Linked DNA regions of Homo sapiens: region 1 is linked to region 2. The links come from fine-mapping of genetic effects on gene expression. Tissue or cell type: whole blood. Region 2 holds a variant in brackets; the other region holds the start of a gene. All regions are shown on one strand. Distances are from middle to middle.

Region 1 (2,852 bases), 22 kb after region 2:
TTGCCAAGACTCAAGTTTTCTTTCCTCCAGAATATCTTCCCATAGTGCCAGTTTACACATGTGTCGTTGCTCCACACTTTCAAAGCACTTCGCATTCTCTTTTTGGTAAGTATACATAAACTGCATCGTATTTTAACGTGTCCTGTGTGTAGACTTTTCTCTCCAACGTTAGTGCTAACTCCTAAGGATAGACTGTTCACATCCCACCCGTTCCATTCCCAGAGCGGCGCTAAGTACTGGGCTCGCACTGAAGCATGTGATTTTTCCCTAACATACCAGAATTTTCCTCTGAAAAGAATACTAGCTTCCCCCTTACTCCTGTTTCTCAAGTGATTCAATATGCCTTATGTGACTCTCACCAAGTTCTTTTCTAGGGGTTTGTTTTGTTTTGTTCTGTTTTGTTTGCCTACCCTCCCCCATTCTACTAAAAAATAGTTGAGTTCTCTGGATTCCTGTTCTTTCTCATTCCTAGAGGGACCTTGTGTACTCTGTGAGGGTTCCTTGCCTGCAGTTAGGGGCTCCTAGGCCTTTAAACTGTCATCCCACCACCCCCGACCCCCGACACCCGCGCCCCCCCCAACACACACCCAGTGAAGGCACTTGCGCTAGCTGTGACCTCACACACACCACTCCATAGCCTCACCTGGACCTATCACTTCATTCCCCTCAATCAATCAGGCGGCGTGCATTCCTACCCAAGAAGAAAGATCCCAGACCGCTGTATCTCTCCTTTCTGCCTGTCATTAACTACCCACGAGAGCTCTTTCTCTTTTTCCCTCCTTCTCTTCCTTAGAGACGGAACCTAGGCCCAAGACGGTGAATTGGCGCCGAGAAACCAGACACAGCCACCCAGCCAGCTCCAGCTCCAACGCCACGGTCTCTGCCCCCGCACCCACCCGCGTCCCTCCCAGGCAGCGACCGGAGCTCATGCTTCGGCCTGACCAGGACTCCCCATCCGGGGAGAGCCATCGCTCACTGACCCAGGAAGGTGTCAAACGAGGAAGTAGCAGCAGTAACAGGTACCGAGGCAGACAGCCTAGCGGACGCTATCGGCTCAGCGATCCATCCCTTCCCGACCTAAGCTCCGGCCTCACGGCTTCCTCTACCCAAGCGAACACAGAACAAGTCACGTGCCAGCCCAGCAGTCAGCTGACCGCGGCGCGCGCTGCTCCGCCTACGCCCGCGCCACTGCGCAGCCGCAGCCGCTGCCACTGCCGGGCCTTGGGAGAGGGGCGGGACTAGGAGGCTACGGGGCGGCAAGGGGACCCTATATTCGGGGCTGATCGCTGTTGTTCCAGAGTGGGTGGGGTTTTCCGCTTCTTCCAGTGTTGCAAGTGGCGTTTTGTCCACCACTTGTAAACGTCAGCGCCACTGCAGGTTTCTGCGGGTCAGAAATTGTCTCCAACCCCCTACAAGGGCTTCTCCACTTGGGGTTTTCTTCGTCAGCTGGGTTTTCTACCTAGTATACTGGCTAGTAGTTCATTTTAGCAGATTCACATTTTCCTGAAGTCCACTTAGACTTAATTTCATAAATGGTCCATGGAGCATTTACTGTGCGCCAAGCACTGCGCTCGTTCTTAGGATTGCCTACTGGAGAGAATCACTCCTTGCCACGAAAGCGCCTCATAGATAGTTGAAACCACATTAGATAGTGGGAAACCAAAGGTTTTAGGACAGAGGCATAGACAGGGGAAAGCATCTCCTTTGGAGAAAAATAGGTAACAAGCTCCTCCCAGGAACCCTGCTTATTTCATTAGCTTGGGGAGATAGATAGTAATGTCCTAATTTAGAACACAGAGTTTTAGAAGTAGTAGAAATTTTGAGATGTTCTAATTTAATCCTTTTAGATCTACAGATGAAGAAAGTGAGGGCACGGAGTTGTTCAGCGCAAGGGAATAGATACCAGGTGTTGAATCCAGGCTCTCCTACTTACTAGTTGTGTGACCTTACTCCTCTGAATTTCAGCCTGTTCACATGCAAAGTGGTGGTAATAATACCTTACACAGGTATTGTGAGGATTAAATGAAGCCTGTGGTTAGCACAGTGCCTGGTACATAGGAAACAACCAGTAAATGGTCGTCATTATTACTATGTATTATAGGACCCAGGTTTTCTGACCTATACTATGCCTTTTCTGCTGTGTCCCCCTACAGAAATTCACCACAGAATTTCTCAGAGCCTCAGTATTAGGTTGGACAGAAAGTAACAACCACCAGACTATCCCCAACCTGACGCTTTCACCAGTTTTGGATGAAGTTCATGCAATTACAATAACCAGTTCTATAACATGGCTTCAGAAACTTATCAGAATTCCAGAGGCTTTTATCTGCCATCACGAAATGAGCCTAAAGGCATTTTTTTTTTGGTTAGGTCCACTAAAACTTTCTGCCATGATGCAAATGTTATCCTGTGCTGTCTGTACAGTACCCACTAGCTACATGGAGCCATTGAGCACTTGAAATATGGTTAGTGTGACTTAGTAACTGAATTTTAAAATTTATTTCACTTTAATTAAAATTTAAATAGCCACATGAGACCAGTGACAACAGCCTTAGACAGTGCAGTTTTAAGGTCCATGCTTGAACTATCTTGGTTTCTTCGTGCTTGTGTGTGGTCCTGAGGCAGACTTTTTGTCTTGGATTCTTAATTTCTAAACTGAATTATACCTCGCGCAACTTTCCAACATTTGGGGTTTTTTTTTTAGTTTTGGGGTTTTTTTTGAGATGGAGTCTCGCCCTGTCGCCCAGGTTGGAGAGCAGTGGTGCGATCTCAGCTCACTGCAAACTCCACCTCCCGGGTTCAAGCGATTCTTGTGCCTTGCCCTCCTAAGTAGCTGGGACTACAGGCGTGCA
Region 2 (2,500 bases):
AAATTTTTAAAAATGAGATATTATCAGCCGGGCGCGGTGGCTCACGCCTGTAATCCCAGCACTTTGGGAGGCCAAGGTGGGTGGATCACGAGGTCAGGGGTTTGAGATCAGCCTGACCAACATGGTGAAACCCCGTCTCTACTAAAAATACAAAAAAAAAAAAAAATTAGCTGGGCGTGGTGGTGGGTGCCTGTAATCCCAGCTACTCAGGAGGCTGAGGGAGGAGAATTGCTTGAACCCAGGAGGTGGAGGTTGCAGTGAGACGAGATCATGCCACTGCACTCCAGCCTGGGCGACAGAGCGAGACTCCGTCTCAAAAAAAACAAAAAAAACAAAGATATTATCTCATACCCCCTGGGATGGCTATAATCAAAAAGACAAATAATAAAAATAATAACAAGTGCTGGCAAGGATGTAGAGAAATGAGAATCTTCATACACTGCCGGCGGGAATATTACACGGTACAGCCACTCTGGGAAACAGTTTGTCAGTTCCTCAAAAAGCAAAGCATAGAGTTACCATATGACCCAGAAATTCCACTCTTAGGTACATACCCAAGAAAAATGAAAACATTTAAGAACACAAACTTCTACACAAATATGCACAGCAGCATTATTCTTATAAGCCAAAAAGTGGAAACAAAATAAACGCCCATCAACTGATGAACGGATTAATGTGATATATATGTATACATATATAGTGGAATATTAGTAATAAAAAGAAATGAAATACTGATACATGCAACTGCTGGGATAAACTTCAAAACATTATGCTAAGCAAAAGAAGACAGTCACAAAAGACCACGTATTGTATTCCATTTACAAGAAATGTCCAGACCAAGCAAATCTATAGTGGCAGAACAATTTGTGGGTGGTGGGGACGGTAAGTGACTGCTAATGGGAACAGGAATAGAGGATGATGAAATATTTAAAACTGATTGTGGCAATGGTTACACAAGTCTGAATACACTAAGAATCACTGAATTGTACACCTGAAATAGGTGAAATGCATGGCATGTAAACTATATCCCATTAAAGATAGTAAAAAGAGAATCAGCATTTTCATATTTCAAACAGGTGCATTTTATGTAAATTGTACCTTCATAAAATTGATATACGAAGGGAAAAAAGTCGTTTTCTAAAACCATTCCAATAAGCAGAGTATACATGTGATAATAAACCCAGTGTCCATGAAGCCTGATAATAGTGTCTCCCATTTTGCTCTACTCCATGCATATAAGTACATTACCCTTCTACAAATGCATCCAGTTTAGCCAGTTCATCTGACAAGCCAACCAAGACATCCAACGTGCCAACCTAAAAGGAAAATATATTGTTATTTAGGTGGCATGCTTTTT[T/A]AAAAAAAAAAAACAAGATGATTCATCTTGACCTAAAGTTCTCACAAATCTTAAATTCTCCCTATTTTATTTCATAATGTGTAAGTACAGTTAAAAGATGTTTGCCAGACATTTCAAAGCTATTTATATGTACAAGATAATCCTTTAATTCATGGTTATAAGCACCACTTAAGACTTGAAGACTCCTCAAAGACAGGTCTGTGCTTGTACTATTCAATGACACTGGATCATTTGAAGTCTTAGTTTACAACACAGGCTCTTAAGTAGGAGGTCCACGGATGTGCGCTAGAGGGTCTGTAATTAAATTTGCATGCAAAACTGTGCATAAGTGAGTACGTTTTGGAGGAAACATCTTGTCTCAAAGGTATCCGTAACTCCAAAAATATTAAAAATCGGTCATTTTATTGCATTTATTATTTATATTTTTGAGACGGAGTCTCACTCTGTCTCCCAGGCTGGAGTGCAGTGGTATGATCTTGGCTCACTGCAACCTCCACCTCCTAGATTCAAGCGATTCTCTTGCCTCAGCCTCCCAAGTAGCTGGGATTACAGGTGCCCACCAACATGCCTGGCTAATTTTTGTATTTTTAGTAGAGACTGGGTTTCACCATGTTGGCCATGCTGGTCTCAAACTCCTGACCTCAAGTGATCCGCCCACCTCAGCCTCCCAAAGTGCTAGGTTTACAGGTGTGAGCCATGATGCCCCACCAAGAATCAGTCATTTTAAATATTTCTTAAATGAATGCTGCCTACGACTCCCTCATTCAGTTAACCAGCAAAATGTCAGTATCATGATCTTTTCCATTCTTTACAAATGTTCCATCAACTGATTACTGGACACCTGCTTTACTTTGAGGCTGCTAGATGACTGATCTTTGATAAGAGTGAATCTTACATAGATTAACCGGATTAAATAACTGGGTTAGATTTGCCAAGTGTGATTAAGTAGGTGCCATGGTAACACATTTACAATGTAAGAATCAGCATAATATAAATTTACTAACAAAAACTTCACTATGATATTTAAGAATATATATTACTAAGAGTTTTAATTTCTGAAAATCATATTTGTGAATGTAACACATCAAACATTTTCATAAGATTTTTCATTGCAATTTAGAAGAGCACAAAAAGCCTAAGTAG

The links. PIP is the estimated chance that this variant, and not a neighbour inherited with it, causes the effect.
Region 1: it holds the start of ATP6V1C1, and the variant in region 2 is fine-mapped to the expression of ATP6V1C1 in whole blood (TOPMed, PIP above 0.99).

The regions. Positions count from the first base shown.
Region 1 is chr8:103,019,354-103,022,205 of GRCh38, reverse strand. ATP6V1C1 (ATPase H+ transporting V1 subunit C1) reads right to left here and starts at 1,123. Exons shown (of 13, transcript NM_001695.5): 1 at 981-1,123. RefSeq lists an enhancer at 684-893.
Region 2 is chr8:103,041,156-103,043,655 of GRCh38, reverse strand. ATP6V1C1 (ATPase H+ transporting V1 subunit C1) reads right to left here. Exons shown (of 13, transcript NM_001695.5): 3 at 1,249-1,316. Among named protein-coding and RNA genes, the nearest start is that of ATP6V1C1, 21 kb to the right of the region's middle. The variant T/A (reference allele first, on the strand shown) is at 1,358.